Linked DNA regions of Homo sapiens. The protein of the gene in region 1 purifies or fractionates together with the protein of each later gene. This does not show direct contact. Each region holds a gene or a part of one and is shown in the gene's direction. Other genes may lie near its edges.

Region 1 (9,782 bases):
TCAAAAATTCTGTATGCACCGATGTGGTGGCTCATGCCTGTAATCCCAGCAGTTTGGGAAGCCAAAGTGGACAGATCCCCTGAAGTCAAGAGGTCGAGACCAGCCTGGCCAACATGGTGAAACCCCTTCTTGTGGAGTAAAAGTTAAATATTAAATTTGAACTCAATTGGACTTGAACACAAGGAATGGTTACGTGCCAGAAATCTGTCCCTGGGCACTTGCTCAGGAACGGATGGACATACTGATTGTTCTTGATAAATACATCATCTGCCTCGAGGCAATAAACAAAACCTTGAAAATAGGCTGACCTTTCCGTGTTCCTTGAGTCCAATGACAAAAGGCCCTTGTGCCTAGGCCTCATGCCAAAAAGAATACTATAAAAAGGTCAGGCCAGGTGCGATGGCTCATGCCTGTAATCCCAGCACTTTGGGAGGCCAAGGTGGGCGGATCACCTGAGGTCAGAGGTTCGAGACCAGCCTGGCCAACATGGTGAAACCCCCATCCTACTAAAAATACCAAAAATTAGCTGGGCGTAGTTGCTGGCGCCTGTAATCCCAGCTACTCAGGAGACTCAGACAGGAGAATCCCTTGAACCCAGGAGGCGGAGGTTGCAGTGAGCCGAGATCGTGCCATTGCACTCCAGCCTGGGCAACAAGAGTGAAACTCCGTCTCAAAAAAAAAAAAAAAAAAGGTCAGGGTCCCAGACTACGCTGAAGCTCCACGAGACCTCTCCTTCTCTGTGCATGGACCAGTGGCTGACTCTGGAGCCTAGGCTGTTGCTTCCCGGTCTGGTGATGAATCCTCCATTGTCTGGTGAGTGTATATATGCTGATTGTTTTTTTTTCCTCACTGCTATTTGCTCAATGCACCTTCTATTTTATACTTAAATGAACCTAAAGTAGTTTACAATCTGCACTTATGTGTGAGTGCTGTGTGTTTGCTTGTACCTGTGCACTCCCCACACAGAACATGTCTCTACTAAAAAAAAAAAAATTAGCCAGCTGTGGTGCATGTGCCTGTAATCCCTGCTACTTGGGAGGCTGAGGCACGAGAATCACTTGAACCTGGGAGAGGGAGGTTGCAGTGAACCGAGATCATGCCACTGCACTCCAGCCTGAGTGAGAGAGTGAGACTCTGTCTCACAAAACAACAACAGCAACAAAAATTAGCCAGGCGTGGTGGCGTGCACCTGTACTCCCAGCTGCTTGGGAGGCTGGGGCATGGGAATCACTTGAACCAGGGAGGCAGAGGTGGCAGTAAGTCGAGATTGCACCACTGCACTTCAGTCTGGGCAAGAGAGCGAGACTCTGTCTCAAAAAAAAAAAAAAAATCTATATGTGGGTATATTTGACATGTCTTGAAGAAAACTGTGGAAGGGCACTCGTTAAACTGTTAACATTGGTTATCTCTAAGATATGAGGAAGAAGGATGGAGACCTCTTTTAGAGGATTCTATACCTCTAGGGAATGATCGTTAGCTTGTATACATCTTTGGATTCCTTTACCTGATAAAAAATTAGTTTTGTCATTAAAATTAACAAAAATATTAACTTTGAGCCGGGCGCAGTGGCTCACGCCTGTAATCCCAGCACTTTGGGAGGTTGAGGTGGGCGGATCACCTGAGGTTGGGAGTTGGAGATCAGCCTGACCAACATGGAGAAACCCCGTCTCTACTAAAAATACAAAATAAGCCAGGCATGATGGCACAAGCCTGTAATCCCAGCTACTCAGGAGGCTGAGGCAGGAGAATTGCTTGAATCCGGGAGGCAGAGGTTGCAGTAAGCCAAGATCAAGCCATTGCACTGCAGCCTGGGCAACAGAGTGAAACTCCGTCTCAAAAAAGAAAAAAAAAAGGAAAACTATAAATTATACTGAATGTTTTATTTTCCTATTGCTGTGGTAATAAATAACCATAATGTTAGTGGCTTAAAACAACCTAAATTTAATATCTCATAGTTCTATAGGTGAGGAGTCTCACCAGATTAAAGTCAAGGTGTCAGTCACATTTTGTTTCTTTTTGGAGGCTCTAGGGGAAGATCCCCAACACTAGCTCATCCATGTGTTGGCCGAATTCAGTTCTATGATGTGGGATTGAGGTCTGTTTCCTGGCTGTCAGCTGGAAGCCACCATTAGCCCCTAGAGTTCTTTCCCTGCCCTTGCACATAAGCCCCTACATTTCTTTCTTTCTTTTTTTTTTTTAATTATTTTTTTCTTTGAGTTGGAGTCTCGCTGTGTTGCCCAGGCTGAAGTGCAGTGGTGTGATCTCAGCTCACTGCAACCTCCGCCTCCTGGATTCAAGTGATTCTCTTGCCTCAGCCTCCTGAGTAGCTGGGATTACAGGCGGACGCCACCTCGCCCGGCTAATTTTTGTGTTTTTAGTAGAGATGGGGTTTCACCAAGTTGACCAGGCTGGTCTCAAATGCCTGACCTGGTGATCCGCCTGCCTTGGCCTCCCAAAGTGCTGGGATTACAGGCGTGAGCCACCGCGCCTGGCCCGCCCCTACATTTCAGAAGCAGCAACAGGGCATGGAATTCTTCTCATGCTTTGACTCTCTCCTGAGATTAGATTGGGCCTACCCAGATACTTCAGAATAATCTCATCTCCAGATCCTTAACCTTAATTACATCTGCATAATTCCTTTTGTCACCTTAAGGTAACATATTCACAGGTTCCAGGAAATTAGGGAATGGACATGTTTGGGAGGCGATTGGTTTGCCAACCATAATGAAGGACATAAACAAAAAACCAACTTAAATGGCACATTTAAAACTTGTTGTGATACCCTACCTTGTTTAAACCTGAGTGACTCTCTCCTAGCAGACAGAGCCGGACAGACTCCATTTTAGTTTCTTTGCTTGCAGCCCTCTTTATCCCCCTAAGGGAGTAACTAGTGCAAGCTGACTCCAAGCACATCCAGGAATTCACCTGCTGATAAGATATTGAGGCAAGCTGTACCAGCAGCTCCTGGGAATGTGCTCGGTGGAAGGTACCTAAAGCCCCCGCATTTATCTCTTAGTGATAGTTTAAGCCCCTGTACCTGGAACTGTTTATTTTTTGTAACTGCTTCTATAACCAATTAACTTTTTTAACTTTTTGCCTATTCTGCTTCTGTAAAACTGCTTCAGTTAAACCCCCCTCCCCTATTTAGACCTTAGTATAAAAGAAAATCTAGCCCCTTCTTCAGGGCCGAGAGAATTTTGAGCGCTAGCTGTCTCCCGGTTGCCGGCTAATAAAGGACTCCACAATTTGTCTCCAAGTGTGGCGTTTCTCTATCTCGCTTGGTTACAACATTGTCACATTCTTAGATGGGAAGATTTGCTATTGTAAAGATGTTATTTCTGCCTACATTAGCCTACAAATTCGGTGCTAGATGTTCTAATAACTAAAGTTGAATTTTTTTCATTAGGTGAGTGGATAGATGCTCAGAGAATATATACTGTTTAGAGAAATAAAGGAAGGTGACTTTGCAGACTTTAACTCAGGTAGACCGCGTATGTTTTTGAGACAAATACACCAGCATTCTGCACGAGGGCAAAGTAATGTTTCCCACTGTTTCCAAAATCCTGTTAATATCCAGGATTTGCTGGGCACAGTGGCTCACGCCTGTAATCCCAGCACTTTGGGAGGCCGAGGCAGGCAGATCACTTGAGGTCAGGAGTTCAAGACCAGCCTGGCCAACATGGTGAAAACCCATCTCTACTAAAAATACAAAAAAAATTAGCTGGGCATGATGGTGCACGTCTGTAAACCCAGATGCTCGGGAGACTGAGGCACAAGAATTGTGTGAACCCAGTACGCAGAGGTTGCAGTGAGCCCAAGATCACACCACTGCATTCCAGCCTGGGCGCCAAAGCGAGACTGTCTTAAAAAAAAAAAATTAGGATTTTTCTGGTCACCATTTTTTAGGCACACATTGACTGATACTTTGAACTGTCTACGGAGACTTGTTCCATCCTTTCCTATTCATAACCAAGAGCTCAAAACTGTATCGTAAGTATACTTTAGTTCCCCAACACATCATTTTTATACTTGTCAAATGTGAAACTCGTGTTGTTATTATTATTATTTGTTTCCAGACGGAGTTTTGCTCCTGTTGCCCAGGTTGGGTTGCAGTGTTGCAATCTCAGCTCACTGCAACCTCCGCCTCTCAGGTTCAAGCAATTCTCCTGCCTCAGCCTCCCGAGTAGCTGGGATTACAGGCGCCCGCCACCATGTCAAGCTAATTTTTGCATTTTTAGTAGAGATGGGGTTTTGCCATGTTGGCCAGGCTGATCTCGAACTCCTGATCTTAGGTGATCTTCCCGCTTCGGCCTCCCAAAGTGCTGGAATTACAAGCGTGAGCCACCGCGACTGGCCTCGTGTTATTTTTCTGTCCACTCACACAGCTTTATGAGAACTTTCGGCAAAGGTTTCTGATGGATGGGCATTGTATCTTCACTGTCTTGAGATTTAGAGAAGAAACTGTTTAAGAACTACTTCCATCATGATGCATCCTCAGGAGATGTGGATGAACTGCGGAGATGTGGGGTGAAGATGAACAAGAGATGAGTGAGTTTGTGTCTCCCTCTAAAGAAAGTGGCTTTTGTCAAAATGTACTTGTAAAGAAGTGTATAGGCTGGGCAAAGTGGCTCACGCCTGTAATCCCAAAACTTCAGGAGGCTGAGGCGGAAGAATCGCTTGAGCCCAGGAGTTGGAGACCAGCCTGGGCAACACAGTTAGATCCCGTGGGTAAAAAAGTGCAAAAATTAGCATGGTGGTGCATGCCTGTAGTTCCAGCTCTTCGGGAGCCTGGGCTGCAGTGAGCCGTGATGGCCCCACCACACTCCAGCCTGGGCGAGTGAGACCCTGTCTCAAAAAAAAAAAAAAAAAAAAAGGCAATTAACCCACAATTTTCAAGGCAATTGTTATGCTTTATTACAAGAAGTGTTTGAAATGCATCCCATTTGTAGATCCCTAGAAGTAAAATAGTCACCTTTGTTTACACTCACACCAAACACAGTTTTTGGAAGAGATATCGCAGACTTCATTATTATCCCCAGATTAAAGGTCAGTTTTGAGTCTTTTTATTTTGTCTCGACCTTATTACCTTCCTAGCCAAAACATGGAAGTAAAACATCTTTTCTACGTTAATACTGCATTTCCAGGGGTCTTGGGGTGTTCCGGGGGAGGGTGAGGTCCCCTCTCTGTCATGGCGGGGTGTGGACGCGGTCGCCTTCTCCTGGCGCCGCGGTACCTAGGACAGGAGGAAGAGGCCAGGAAGGGTCCAGGGAGGCTCAGGCCGGGTCTGCGACTTGCCGGTGGGTGGCGGCAACGACCCTGTGGGCACCAGCCCGTCAGACGGCCCCAGCTCCGAGCCCGGCTGCGAGCCCTCTCCAGCCTGCAGCCGCTCCTCTCCCGGCCCTACTCCCCGCCCGGCACTGACGTCCAGCCCCGCCCGTGCAGTGAGGCCAGAGCCTGGTGTAGCCCCACGCGGGGCCGTTCCATCTTCGAAGTTTTCTGGTGACTGGGTCGGTCCCGCAATTATCTCAGATCAGGGGGGAAGCCAAGGGCAACGGGACACCCTGATGTATCAAACACCTCCCCCTGGAGCCCCATCGCGCATGCGCACCCTGGAGGCAAGCGCTCGAGGCACAGGGCGCGGCTTGGGGAGGGAGGAGGCAGGGCGGTGGTTGGGCAAGAGAAGAGCCGCGCCCACCACGGAACATCTCTGCGCATGCGCCGGGGGCCAGCTTCTGGTACTTTTGACGCGTCTGCTAACGTAGTCCCTCAGTGCGCATCCGGACGTAGGAGGTGGAGGTTGTGGAATTCGCCGTTCGAAAGCAGGGACTAAAAGCCCCACTTCGTCTTACGTTCCGAAAGGAAGGCGTCTGTTGAGCCTTTCTCTCAGTCGTGAGGGAGGCGTCGACGGCGTGCGGTAAGTTTTCTGCTGACGGGGTCTCTCAGGACCACCGCAGTGGTCTCTCAGGAGTGAGGGACGGGAAACGTGCCGGGCCCCGCGTTTGGGGAACGCAGCGTTTCGCTTCAAGGCCGCGGCCTCAGGGCGCCGAGCGGGGTTTCTAGGGCTCGGTTCCTGTCGCGGCGGTCGCCGCCCGCGCCGTGGCTCCGCCTCCCGGAGGTTCCCCGACTGTGGCTTCCGGGTGGCCAGGCGCCGGCTTCCGCGACTCGACTTGTTTTTTCTCTCTTGGTTTTTTAGGAAGTCCTGAGTTGAGGCTTGCGGGATCCTTTCCGGAGAAAGCGCAGGCTAAAGCCGCAGGTGAAGATGTCCAACTACGTGAACGACATGTGGCCGGGCTCGCCGCAGGAGAAGGATTCGCCCTCGACCTCGCGGTCGGGCGGGTCCAGCCGGCTGTCGTCGCGGTCTAGGAGCCGCTCTTTTTCCAGAAGCTCTCGGTCCCATTCCCGCGTCTCGAGCCGGTTTTCGTCCAGGAGTCGGAGGAGCAAGTCCAGGTCCCGTTCCCGAAGGCGCCACCAGCGGAAGTACAGGCGCTACTCGCGGTCATACTCGCGGAGCCGGTCGCGATCCCGCAGCCGCCGTTACCGAGAGAGGCGCTACGGGTTCACCAGGAGATACTACCGGTCTCCTTCGCGGTACCGGTCCCGGTCCCGTAGCAGGTCGCGCTCTCGGGGAAGGTCGTACTGCGGAAGGGCGTACGCGATCGCGCGGGGACAGCGCTACTACGGCTTTGGTCGCACAGTGTACCCGGAGGAGCACAGCAGATGGAGGGACAGATCCAGGACGAGGTCGCGGAGCAGAACCCCCTTTCGCTTAAGTGAAAAAGGTGGGTGGGTCATTTACCTTTCCATTTGTGGTAATGTATGGTGGCAGTATATGAGTAGGCTAGGGAACCAACGTTGCTGTGTAGTTTCAATATTAGTTCCTTTAGTGCCCGAAATCTTTTTGGAGGAAAGAGGGAGGACATTACCTGTATTTAAGTGGACAGCATTCTCTTTAGGGTTAAAGGTCAACTGGATGTTAAATGGCTCAGGATGTAGGGAACTTTTTTTCCTATTGGCTGACTGTTCTTAGTGGGTGGAGCCTTTTAAATGTTATGATTAAGTTAAAGGTTCTAAGTTAACGTGATTGGGAAGAACAATATCAAAACACGCCTTCTTTTAGTTGACATTATTACTGAATAAAATTGGATTGTCGAGTATCCTAAGTGACCTAGGAGGCCGGGCGCGGCGGCTCACCTCTGTAATCCCAGCACTTGGGGAGGCGGAGGCGGAGGCGGGTGGGTCACTTGAGGCCAGGCGTTCCATACCAGCCTGGCCAACATAGCTCACTATCTAGTAAAAGTACAAAAATTAGCCGGGGGTGGTGGTAGAAATACACTTTAGTAGTGTATCAGTATTGGTTCAGTGGTTGTGATAATTATATAAAGAATCTACAGCAGAAAAACCTGGTTTTCAGAAATACATCTTTGAAGAGAAAGCAAAATAATATCACTATTAGCTAGAGAAAATTAAGTACAACAAAAAGACAAAATAATAGGACGCTCAGGCCTTTAGTCAAGAAAACAAAACTAATTGTTGAGATAATTTAAGAATTTTATTCTTTTCAGCAAGAAATGAGCTGGAGAATAGAATTTTCAGTGAATAAAGTTACACAGTTGTCCCTCTGTTCACTCGGGGGATTGGTGCCAGGATGCATATGGAACCCTCGCGCACACTTGGGGTTTACAGTCTCTCAAACACTGTGGTACTTTCTATCTGCATTTAGTAAGGGGGAGAAAAAACAAGTATAAAGTGGACCAGCGCAGCTACTAGTGTTCAAGGGCAACCTTAGTTTACCTATTATAAAACAAGTGACTTAATATATTTAATACCACAAAATAACATATTTATTGTGTAATTCTGAGTTCTCTTGGGAAATAACTACCAGATTAATGAGTATTTTAAAATCTCTCTCTTTTTTTTTTAGATCGAATGGAGCTGTTAGAAATAGCAAAAACCAATGCAGCGAAAGCTCTAGGAACAACCAACATTGACTTGCCAGCTAGTCTCAGAACTGTTCCTTCAGCCAAAGAAACAAGCCGTGGAATAGGTGTATCAAGTAATGGTGCAAAGCCTGAAGTAAGTATTCTAGGTTTGTCGGAACAAAACTTTCAGAAAGCCAACTGTCAAATCTGATTAGCCACTTATATCTTAGACTATACTTTTTGGGAAGTCTAGAGATGTATATAATGTGCTAAATTCAAAGTAGCAAATCTGAAGATAGGCAATGTCAAACCCATGAAAATGGGAGATTAATGAGCTTTATTTGGCCGTGCATGGTGCCTCATGCCTGTAATGAGGCAGATGGCTTGAGTCCAGGAGTTCAAGACTAGCCTGGGCAATGTGGCAAAACCGCGTGTTTACAAAAAATACAAAAATTAGCCAGGCATGGTGGTGCATGCCTGTAGTCCCAGCTGTTTGGGAGGCTGAGGCAGGAGGATCTTTGAGCCTAGGATGCTAAGGTTGCAGTGAGCCAAGATGGCACCATTGCACTCTAGCCTGGGCAGCAGAGCGAGACCCTGTCTCAAAAAATACATTTATTTTTTTCATTTTCAGTTAACAGTGTACTCTTATAACACCGTTATTAGCTGGTACTTTGGTGATTTCTATTACTAGTTTTTCTAAGCTATTTACAGAGTGTTTGTAGCTTTCATTTGCAGCATTATGTTCCCACAAATTCTGTACTCAGCATATACAGTATAGTTTATCTGCTCTATTTCTGTCTTATAGAAATCATGAATGTGGTCTGCAGACATTGATGAAGAAAATCTGTTGGTAATTGATACATGGGCTAAAGCATCAGAGGTTTAATTTGAAGTTTATGTTCACACACTGAAAACTTAGTTTTTTTGTTGGTAGATCCATGTGCATGCTAGAATTTGGGACAGGCACTATTTGCATAAAGTATTAAAGTCAATTTTTAAACTAAGCAAAGGTACACGTTGTAACGGTGGGGCATCTGTGAAAAAGATGTCCCTTTCATAATATATGCAATATATTCCAGATGTTTTGAGAGATTACAGAAGAGGAGGCCTGCTTCACTTGCAGATAAGTTTATTATAATTCTCCAGAAATGTGCAGGATGTGCATTAGCAAATTGCACTGTACTTTTCACTCCAGCCTGGGTGACAGAGCAAGACTCCCGTCTCGGGGGCTTAAAAAAAAAAAATGCTGTATCTAAATGAATCTGTGTAATTGGGCCCAGATGTGGGTTTGCTCAGTATTAGTAGACAAGGTCTTTGTTCAGACGATTAGGTGCCTAACTGGCAAATGCCTTAGTTTCTTAAAACGTATTTTCTGATGTGGCTTTACATTTCAAAAGTGAACTTGATTCAACCTGAGAAAACTGATTAAAAAATTAGTTTAAATTTGCCAGCAGGGAAGTAAAATAATTATGGGAAGAGTGTCTTAAGCCTAATATTAAATCAGTTTTGTTAAGGGGAAAACTCAATAGTTCTGTTACTTAGGCTGTTAGATCCAAGTTGATTTTTGTGTCTACAGCTAAATTTTGTTTACAATTAGGCTATTTTTTAATATAGGATTTAGAAACCAAGGGTATGTGTTTTAAAATTACACTTTTTCTTAACCTGTCTAGCTGTCGGAAAAGGTAACAGAAGATGGAACTCGAAATCCCAATGAAAAACCTACCCAGCAAAGAAGCATAGCTTTTAGCTCTAATGTAAGTATATCCAGGCATTGAACACTCAAAAATTGGATTTAGGATGTATTTTTGCATCTTTGTGTTTTTATCTTTGTGGTGATAGTTGGGGGCCTACTGACACACTTTT
Region 2 (7,000 bases), on another chromosome or scaffold:
GCTGTGTGCCAACCTTATGTCTTTTACTGAATGAGTGTAAGTTCCTCAGTTGCCTGTTTAGTACATAGCATTGTATCTTGCACATAATAGGTTCTCGGTAAATATTTGCTTCAAAAATCTTTTTTCTTTGAGATGGAGTCTCGCCCACTTCGCGCAGGCTGGAGTGCAGTGGCGCGATCTCGGCTCACTACAACCTCCGCCTCCCGGGTTCAAGCAACTCTCCTTCCTCAGCCTCCCGAGTAGCTGGGATTACAGGCATGTGCTACTACGCCTGGCTAATTTTCATATTTTTAGTAGAGACGGAGTTTCACCATGTTGGTCAGGCTGGTCTCGAACTTCTGACCTCAGGTGATCCACCTGCCTCAGTCTCCCAGAGTGCTAGGGTTACAGGCATGAGCCACTGCGCCAAAAAAAAAAAAAAAAAAAATCTTAGTTGGCCTTGTCTGGTTATTGTAATGCAAAGTTTTTTTTTTTTTTTTTTTTTTTTTAAGGGAAATGGGTATCTCCTTATGTTGCCCGGGCTGGCCTTGAACTCCTAGGCTCAAGCAGTCCTCCAGTCTCAGCCTCCTGAGTAACTGGGACTGCGTTTTTTTGTTTTATTTTGTTTTTAATTTGGTCTTGAAGTGGAGTTATATAGGGTGGGGGGAGGGAGGATGGAGTATGACTTGAGGTGTGGGTTAGGTTCTGAAGCGAGCCTAGATGACAAAATAGCTTACAAGCAAAGCTACCCTTGAAATCTCAGGGAGGCAGCATGTTAATTGTAGGAATACCAGTGTTGCAGAACTCTGACATGGCCAGTGTGATATTGTAAAATACATATTTGGCCTTCATCCCTGTCTCCTGTGGCATATGACTCCTATAATCCTTGAAATCTCCAAAATGATTAGTGTCTTTTTATATGCTAAGGAGCTGACTGATGGCTGGCAGCCCCTAAGTAACTTTAGCATGGGGGCTGGTCACTTGAAAGACCCAGGCAGGATTAGAGGGTTGGGACCTTCAACCAATGTCCAACCTCTGGGGAGAGGAGAAGGCAGACGAGCTGATGACCACCAGCGTCACTGGTTTAATTAGTCATGTCTAAGTAATGAAGCTTCCATAAAAATCCAAAAGACTGGGATTGGGGAGCTTCTGGATAGGTGGACATGAGAGGTTCCTGGATGATGGTGCCCCAGAGAGTGCATGGAAGCTCTGTGCCCTTCCCACATGCCTTGCCCTATGCATTGCTTCATCTGTATCCTTTGTAATATGCTTTTATAATAAACCAGTATATGTAAGTAAAGTGTTCCTCTAAGTTCCTCTAAGTTCTGTGAATTGGTCTAGCAAATTAATAGAACCTAAGGAGGGGGTCATGGGAACCCTGATTAATAGCCAGTTGGTTAGAACTACAGGTAAAACAACCTGATTCTTGTGGTTGGTATCTAAAATGGAGGCTAGTCTTGTGGGACTCACCCCTCAACCTATGGGATCTGACGCGGTCTCCATCCAGGTAGGTAGTGTCAGAATTGAACTGAATTAGAGGACACCCAGCTGGTTGGTGTCTGCTACAGAATTGGTTGGTTGCTTGGTGTGTGGGGACATATCCCTCACAGAATTATACTGTGTTGATTGTTGAGTGAGAGAATAGCAAAAATGCTTTGGTTTGGTTTGGGTTTTTTTTTTCTCTATATCCTCAGGCAAGTTTTATTTCGGCTTTGGAAAAAACTGCTGTTTTTCTTCCTGTGAGCCCCAGATGAAGTTGTTGGTTTGTATTTAGGAGTCACAATATGTAAAAAATACAATGAATACAATCATTCATGCATAGTGAGGGAAGTATTTATATTCAGAGAGGTGCATGTGAATGAGGATCAGCTAAGGGAACCGATATTTAAATTAGTTATCTTTCTTCTAGTGTGTATAGGTGAATTCAAGATAAATGCACATTTGAGACCCTGCCCTTGTGCTATGGAAAGATAAATAAATCAATACTTTTTTTTTAACTTCTTTTTTTTCCCCCTCGCCAGGCAAGGTCGGTCTTGTGCTGTTGCCCAGGCTGTAGTGCAATGGCCCTCATAGCTCACTGTAGCCTGGAACTCCTTGGCTGAAGCCTTCCTCCCACTTCAGCCTCCTAAGTAGTGCACCATCACACCTGGCTAATTTTTAAATATTTTTGTAGAGAGAGAGTCTCACTGTGTTGCCCAGGCTGGTCTTAAATTCCTGGCCTTAAGTGATGCTCCCAGCTTGGCCTCCCACAGCTTTGGGACTGCAGGCATGAGCCACTGTGCCTAGCCTGTTTGTCTGTTTGTTTGTTTGTTTGTTTTTAATAGAGTTGGGGTCTCACCATCTTGCCCAGGCAGGTCTTGAACTCCTGGGCTCAAACAATCCTGCCTTGGCCTCCCAAAGTGCTCAGATTGCAGGTGTGAGCTAGTGCACCAGGCCTTAATTTCTTTTCTTTTTTTTTTTTCTTTTTCTGAGACGGAGTCTTGCTCTATTGCCCAGGCTGGAGTGCAGCGGCGTGAAATCTCAGTTCACTGCAACCTTCGCCTCCTGGGTTCAAGCGATTCTCCTGCCTCAGCCTCCCAGGTAGCTGGCATTACAGGCACATGTCACCACAGCCAGCTAATTTTTGTATTTTTAGTAGAAATGGGGTTTCACCCTGTTGGCCAGGCTGGTCTTGAACTCCTGACCTCAAGCGATCCTCCTGCCTCAGCCTCCCAAAGTGCTAGGATTACAGGTGTGAGCCACCATGCCTGGCTGAATTTCTTATTGTATGTGTTTCATAGATGCCTGAAAGATTATTGCAAAGCTGAATTTTTTATTGTATGTGTTTCATAGATGCCTGAAAGGTTATTGCAAATTGCTCCTTATGATAAACATTTAAAATATGGATTAAATTTCTTTTTCTGTGGTTTAGTTTTTAGATTCTTTTAGTCTCCTTTGCTACCGGAATATGTTAATTAAGCTTTGGTGTTAGAAGATTGACTTCACTTTGCCTAGTAATAAATACTAACAGCGGGCTCTCTGTTAGTAGTTGTTGTTCTCTAAATAAATTTTATGATATAGGAAAAGTCAGCTAAATTTTTAAAAATCTAAATAACTGTATCTTGGTAGAAGTGCCTTCTGGCCAGAAATAAGTCTTTATTTGAAATATAGATGAGTTAGCCAGATGGCAAATTCCTCTTAGTTGCTGTCCTGCATTTTGAAGTACAGTGTGACTTGAACATCAGAGTAAAAAATGTTGGAAAGCAATAATCTATATTTACTCACAAAAGGAAATGGATTGACCTATTGCTTTTGCTACTGAAAGTGAAGCCTTAAAACAACAGAACACAGAAACCTGATTCTGGTGTGTTTTAACATGTACAATCTAATTAATTTTAGAATTAGAAGGATATGGTGGCCAGTGATGTAAACACTCAAGTAGTTTGCCATCACATAATTCAATTCCATAGGAAACCAGATCTCATTACTTTGTGTCATGGCACTAGCTAAATGGAGTCATTTTTCAAGTTAGGAATAGCAATTATTTGGGGAGCAACAATGTAAGTTTTGTATTTTAAAACATGTGTAGTGTGCTATGTAAGAACTGAGCCCATTTTGTCCCACCACCCTGGAAATTAAATGGGACGGTCTCCAATGTAAACCCAGTAGTTCAGTGTTACCAGTTACTTTGGCTTGAAATATAAGAACTTTGTTTTCTTGACGGTCAGGCAGATTTGAAAACCACGTTCTTTATTTGTGCCAATTTGGACTCTAAGTTTGGTGGACAAAGTGAATTTTGAAATGGTTTTAGTTTTCCATGAATTCCCTATTTGAAGAAATTGAATAAATCCTTTAAAAAATAATGTAATGTTTAGTTTGATAATTAAACTTGAGTCACTTTGGAAAACGTGAGTAAAGGAAAGCTGACAGCATTTGTTTACTCTTTCTAAAGTGGAACACAGTAAGGACAAAGTAAGCATTCCTAATGTAAGTCCTCTGCATTCCTACAGGGCTCTTCACAGTTAGAGCCCGTATCCCTGATATCCCTGGGCTGTTTGTCTTTTGATTTGTTTTTAATTACCCTAGCAAACAAAAGGGAAAAAGAAGAGACTTGTGAAAATTTACCTAGACAATAGGAATTAGAAGTCAACACAATCTAATTTTCTAGCTTCTTTGTCTACTTCCAGCAGGTCAGTAAGTTACAGGTACTTATCACCTCTTTCTTGCAGAATAAACAGCCATTGGACTCTTCAAACAAAAACGCTGTCTCCATCAAGTACTGCTTTCGCAGGATAAGTGACCATTTTTAATCAGTTGAAATTAACGGAAAGTAGCAGTTATTTTTGAAAGATGACATCAATTATATAATATAGTAAAGAGATTTAATTTTTAGTCCTTTGTTTCTTACTGCACAAATTGTATGGCGTTTGAATAGAATTCCCATGATACTGACACTTCAGCAAATACTTGCTTGATGGCTACCAATCTCTATAACTTACATTGCACAGTACCTAGGAATATTCATGTGAGTTCATTCCTCCCTGCTCAGATTCTTCAGCTCCTCGTGGTTGGTTTATTCAGTAAGTATTTGAATACCTAATATATGCCAGACACTGTGCTAATAATAATAAGCACTGTGGAGACAAAGAGCTGTTGGAACAGTCACAGATGATAAAACACAAAGAATAAGGGCTGTAGTAGAGTTATGAATGATCATAGCAGGAACACAAAGGAAGGAAATACATATTAACTACTCTAGGAGGTCTTGGAAAGCTTCATAAAGGAGATGGTCTTTAGTCTGATTCTGGGCGGTTGGAGCAGCAGTTTGCATCGGGTGAAAAGAAAGCAAGGGCATTCCTGGCAGAGGGAACAGCCTGAGCAAAGCCATGCAGAGAATGAAGACCTACAGAAGAAAATGCTAATTTGAAAAAAGATGCATAAAGCAGTCTATGTTTTAGTCTAGTCTTTTTAAACTTACAGAAATTTATTACTATGTGTGTCCATCTAACTTGGCTTATTTTCTTTATTTGGGGATCAAGGGAATGCCAGAATTATGATATTAGTTTTATTACTAATTAATTAATTTATTTATTGAGACAGGGTCTCACTCTGTTGCCCAGGCTAGAGCGCAGTGGTGCGATCATGGGTCACTGCAGCCTTAGCCTCCTGGAGTAAATGATCCTCCCACCTCAGCCTGTGAGTAGCTGGGACTACAGGCACACATCACCATGCCTGGCTAGTTTTTTAAATTTTTTGTAGAGATGGGGGGTCTCACTTTGTTGCCCAGGCTGGTCCTCCTGCCTTGGCCTCCCAAAGTGTTGGGATTATAGGCATGAGCCACCATGCCCAGCCTGAATTAAGATATTAGTTTTAAAGAGCAGACTTTTGTAAGTGTGCATTAGTTTTGACAGTGTGACTGTGTTTTCAGGACACCAACCCACTGAGAGCTGATGAGAAATACATTTCTTGTATTTTTCTTTCCCCTGCAACGCTTGCCTTTAAATTTTTTTTTTAAATATGCATTTACTTTATTTCTTATTTTCATTAACCAACTGATTTCTGGTTTTGTCCCTGTGTATAAAAGATTGTAGGCCGGGCACAGTGGCTCATGCCTATAACCCCAGCACTTTGGCAGGCTGAGGTGGGCAGATTGTATTGCTTGAGTCCAGGAGTTTGAGACCAGCCTGGGCAACATGGTGAAACCCTGTTTCACGAAAAAAAAAAAAAAAAAAATTAGCCAGGTGTAGTGGTGCATGCCTGTAGTCCCAGCTATTCGGGAGGCTGAGGCATGAGAACTGCTTGAGCCCAGGAGGCTCTCTGAATTCTTATTTAGGTAGAAATGTAAAATTCTAGGGTTTGTTTTTATTGTTGTTGTTGTTGTTTTTGGCATATTGGAAGATTTTTAAATTTTCTCTTTTAAAAATATAGGCCGGGTGCAGTGGCTCACACCTGTAATCCCAACACTTTGGGAGGCCAAGGCCGGTGGATCACCTGAGGTCAGGAGTTCGAGACCAGCCTGGCCAACATAATGAAAGCCCATCTTTACTAAAAATACAAAAATTAGCCGGGCATGGTAGCACACACCTGTAATCCCAGCTACTCAGGAGGCTGAGGCAGGAGAATCGCTTGAATCTGGGAAGCGGAGGTTGCAGTGAGCCAAGATCGTGCCACTGCACTCCGGCCTGGGCGGCAGAGCGAGACTCTGTCTTAAAAAAAAAAAATTATATATATATAACAAGAATGAAGAGAGACATTTACTGGGACACCAATGGCATTGCCGTATCCTAGTATTTATTTCCCAGGTTTAAATCATATCTAATCTGATAAATTCATTTCCTTCAGACATGATTATTTTTCTCCATCTTATAAAATTAAAGTAACTAGGAATGTTTGGCTCAGAAAAGCAACAAATTAGGAGGAACATGGGAATTGTCTTCAAACAACTGAAGTATGGTCATGTTAGAAAAGATTTGATTCTTTTTGTATAGTCCCAGTGGATTGAACCTATGTATTGAATTTATAGTAAAACAGATTTCAGTTCAGTTTAAGGAAGAACTATCCTAACAGTCAAATCTGCTTAGAGAGGGAGTTGGCTGCCTAGGAAGGGAATGCAGTGGTCCCTCTTGAAGTTTTAATATATGAGTTGGATGACCTTCTCCTGGGTGTGTATGGTAAATTCAGATGTCGAGTGGATTATCATATTAGGTGGGCTATAAGGACTATCCCACCCTGAATTATTTACTAGGAAAAATGGGTGATGGAAAGAAACCAGATGATTAATACAGGATGAGAAAGGAGACACGGTTAATAGGGGATAAGAAAGGGGGAAATTGAGGGTTCGGAATGTCTCTCCCAACCATTAGAGCCCTAGAAAGTTCACGTTTTCTCTGCCAGAGACATTTAAGAAATTGTTGGCTCTGGTTTCATAAGAGGTTGTTCTGTAGAACTTGAGGAATTTTTGGCATTTTCACAGAGACTGAACAGTTCTGCTTCAGTAATGAGCCTCTGGCTGGAGTCATTGAGTGCTGCTAAATCAGAAGTG
Region 3 (3,879 bases), on another chromosome or scaffold:
TCAACCTCAGACTGCCTCTGTTGCCATGGAAAGGTGGCTTCCTGGCAGAGCAGCTAGTTAGCACAAGTGGAGGGCGGCACTTCATGTACTCTTTTTTTTTTTTTTTTTTTTCTGACAGAGTCTTGCTGTGTCTCCAGGCTGGAGAGCAGTGGCGTGATCTCGGCTCACTGCAACCTCCACCTCCCAGGTTCAAGCAATTCTCCTGCCTCAGCCTCCTGAGTAGCTGGGATTACAGGCGCGTACCACCACGCCCAGCTAATTTTTTTTTTTTTTTTTTTTTTGTATTTTTTAGTAGAGATGGAGTTTCATCGTGTTGGCCAGGATGGTCTCGATCTCTTGACCTCGTGATCTGCCCACCTCGGCCTCCCAAAGTGCTGGGATTACAGGCGTGAGCCACTGCGCCCAGCCTTCATGTACTCTTGTGTGGAATGGTGCCTGCCAGAGTTGCATAGCCCAGCAGTTTTGGTTCTAAACCTTATGTCCCAAGAATTTTGACTCAAACTTTGGAACATGATTTGTCAGGTGTGGATTCTTGCACCTTAAAATTGTCACTAGTTGGTGTGTCTGGCCTGCTTTGTGATTATGAAACTTCCCACAAGTACTCTAAGGGATGAGTCTCTACTACAGCCCTTGTTCTTTGTGAGGCATTCCCTTCCCCGTTCCAGGGCTGCTCTCGGTGTTTAGCAGAGGCACCCTCCATCGCTTCTTCCTTTCCTTGCAGGGCAAATTTTCTGACGGGGAAAGTCTCTTAAAGGGGCTTCTGTTCCATCTCACCAGCCTCTCAGGTCCTTACTTTGACCAAGGGTTCCCTGGAAAGACCAGGGTGGGCAGTGTCAGCTGGCTGTGGCCATGAGATGCCCAGTCAGCACATGGCAGTGAGCCCTGGGGTACTGGCCCTGTTGGGAGTAACCCATGCATGACTTGTTTGGCTGAGATAAACTGAGGCCAGCTTTGGCTTCCAGCAGCTGGTACATGGTAGGCACACTTCAGACCTGCTGAGTCACTCAGGATTGGATGTAGGCACCCAGCCTAGTTTGAAGTTCTGCATATAATTCAGCCAGCTAGGACAGAGACATTGTTTCAATACGCCTTTTTAACTGTAGCAGATTTCCATGTTTATGTGTTAACCTGCTCGGTTAAAACCATGCCTTGTCTGTTTTGCCTTGTCTGTTTTCCCTTGCCGTTTTAGAATCACGGTCACTTTCAACATTAACAACAGCATCCCACCAACATTTGATGGTGAGGAGGAACCCTCGCAAGGGCAGAAGGTTGAAGAACAGGAGGTAAGCTAATACTATAATCAGCTTTTACCTCAGTTCTGACAGGCTGTGCCTGGGGCTTAGAGGAGGAGCGTTTTTCTTTGGTCTTTCAAAAAAAAAAAATTCCTCTAAGTCCAGTCGCATGGCTCACGCCTATAATCCCAGCACTTTGGGAGGCCGAGACGGGCAGATCACGAGGTCAAGAGATCGAGACCATCCTGGCCAACATGGTGAAACCCCGTCTCTACTAAAAATACAAAAATTAGCTGGGCATGGTGGCAGGTCCCTGTAATCCCAGCTACTCGGGAGGCTGAGGCAGGAGAATCGCTTGAACCCGGGAGGCAGAGGTTGCGGTGAGCCAAGATCACACCACTGCACTCCAGCCTGGCGACAGAGCAAGACTCTGTCTCAAAAAAAAAAAAAAAAAAAAAAGAGAGAGAGAATGGCAGGGGCATAAGAGACTTTAACTGGATCATGCCTACTCTTCAAACATTTCAGGAAGTGCTGTGCCCAGCCTAGTAACCAGCCAGTATGAGGGCCACAGAGTCCCTAGACATTCTGCCCAAGAGCCATCAGTACAGTGTTGGGTCATGACCTGGTGTGGACGGCGCAGCTCTCTGGTGTGCTGCTTTCCCAGCCACCCCAACTAGCATCTCCCTGACGTTGGACCCAGTCTGCTCCCAGAGCTCCGCATCAGAGGAAAAGCTGCTGCTGTTATTCAGCCATAAGGATGGCCAGGTTCCCCAGCCTTTGACCCTGGTCCCTTATGAAGACTCCTGGAACAGTCAAGCTGGAAAGAGATCTTGAAACTTTAGGAAAGCTTTGCAGTGTACGGGTGGAGGAAAAGGCTTGGAATGTTAAGGGACTGATATAAACTCAGTTAATTGGCACATAGCTGAGGCTGGTATCCACATTTCTTAACTGAAAACCCAGTGTGTTATTTAACCAAGCAGGGTGCCAACAGAAGTGAGATCAAGCTCTTCATTTGGGAATAGTATGGCATAAGACTATTCAAATGGCTACATAATATCCTAATAGTGGTGGCCATCAGACACTCTGAACAGAGATCCTTGATCCAGCCATCCATCTCCTTCCAGCAGCAGCATGTATTGACTTCTTGTTTCCCCAGCCTGAACTGACATCAACTCCCAATTTCGTGGTTGAAGTTATAAAGAATGATGATGGCAAGAAGGCCCTTGTGTTGGACTGTCATTATCCAGAGGATGAGGTATGCAGGATGGAGTGCTAGCCTCTTGGCACCCCTGGGGAACAGTGTGTCCCTTGGGAACTTCCTGTCCCTATTTTAGCAGAAATTTAAACACTTTTCTAGCTTAGACCAGCCCAGCAGGGGGAGAGAGGTGGGGAGTGAGGGAAGAGGGTTAAAACCTGATGAGTTTCATGCTGTCAGTGGCCCCCTTTCTTCCCCTGAGTCTAGCTTGTCCTGGAGAACCCTTCAGTTTCCCAATATTGTTTCTTCTCAGGTTGGACAAGAAGACGAGGCTGAGAGTGACATCTTCTCTATCAGGGAAGTTAGCTTTCAGTCCACTGGCGAGTCTGAATGGAAGGATACTAATTATACACTCAACACAGATTCCTTGGACTGGGTGAGTGCTTGATAAGGTGGGGGAACCTTTTGGGCCTTGGAAGGAAGGGTCCTAGTTCAAGGGGAGAAAAAAGCATTTTAATGTTCATTACAGATTTTTTTTTAACTAGTAAATATTGTTCTTTGCAGGCCTTATATGACCACCTAATGGATTTCCTTGCCGACCGAGGGGTGGACAACACTTTTGCAGATGAGCTGGTGGAGCTCAGCACAGCCCTGGAGCACCAGGAGTACATTACTTTTCTTGAAGACCTCAAGAGTTTTGTCAAGAGCCAGTAGAGCAGACAGATGCTGAAAGCCATAGTTTCATGGCAGGCTTTGGCCAGTGAACAAATCCTACTCTGAAGCTAGACATGTGCTTTGAAATGATTATCATCCTAATATCATGGGGGAAAAAATACCAAATTTAAATTATATGTTTTGTGTTCTCATTTATTATCATTTTTTTCTGTACAAATCTATTATTTCTAGATTTTTGTATAACATGATAGACATAAAATTGGTTTATCTCCTCCAAGGCAGTTTGTCTTTTTCTATTCCTCCCCCTTCAACCTGCGTCACAAAAGACCAAGAACAGATGTCGGAAAAGTTTTTTTTTCTTCAGTATTGTTTAAAAGTTTCAATACAAAATAAGTTATAAATAAAAGGCTTGTATGTACAAGGCTCCTCAGAGGGAATGAGTTGTCTTCAACCCCATAGAATGATGTGAGTCCAAGCTGGCTCTAGAGGATCACAGCCCAAGTATCACAGGCCTAGGTTTAAACAGGAAAATAATTAGCTTAAATTGTATTCTAGTCATGAAAGATATCTGATAAAAGTTGTAATCAATGAGAATTCTACACATTAGATGAGGTCTCCTGAGTCCAGTTTCAATTAGTTCAGTAGTGTAGTTTGTCATGATGACCGCCCCTCTTTGGCATTGCTGGACCTCTGTCCTGCAGCCTTCAAACAACTGCCCTGGGAACCATCAGCATCAATAGTCTTCAAGCTAAGATCAAATCCTGTAGATGAACTAAT

Evidence for each region. Proteins that work in one complex are often made in the same cells at the same time.
Region 2: the proteins of RSRP1 (region 1) and PSME3IP1 purify together in Homo sapiens (affinity purification with mass spectrometry; 4 studies listed by BioGRID and IntAct, with this or other methods). This does not show direct contact.
Region 3: the proteins of RSRP1 (region 1) and C1QBP purify together in Homo sapiens (affinity purification with mass spectrometry; 5 studies listed by BioGRID and IntAct, with this or other methods). This does not show direct contact.

What each region holds. Positions count from the first base shown.
Region 1 is NC_000001.11:25,243,441-25,253,222, reverse strand, and holds the start of RSRP1 (arginine/serine-rich protein 1), read left to right. Parts: upstream 1-5,768; 5' UTR 5,769-5,914; intron 5,915-6,193; 5' UTR 6,194-6,259; coding exon 6,260-6,779; intron 6,780-7,921; coding exon 7,922-8,073; exon of another isoform or gene 8,074-9,589; coding exon 9,590-9,673; intron 9,674-9,782.
Region 2 is NC_000016.10:57,176,040-57,183,039, reverse strand, and holds part of PSME3IP1 (PSME3-interacting protein), read left to right. Parts: intron 1-489; exon of another isoform or gene 490-1,423; coding exon of another isoform or gene 1,424-1,486; intron 1,487-4,187; exon of another isoform or gene 4,188-4,538; intron 4,539-5,886; exon of another isoform or gene 5,887-7,000. UniProt on the Homo sapiens protein: Promotes the association of the proteasome activator complex subunit PSME3 with the 20S proteasome and regulates its activity.
Region 3 is NC_000017.11:5,432,277-5,436,155, reverse strand, and holds the end of C1QBP (complement component 1 Q subcomponent-binding protein, mitochondrial precursor), read left to right. Parts: intron 1-1,189; coding exon 1,190-1,283; intron 1,284-2,388; coding exon 2,389-2,487; intron 2,488-2,740; coding exon 2,741-2,863; intron 2,864-2,991; coding exon 2,992-3,141; 3' UTR 3,142-3,379; downstream 3,380-3,879.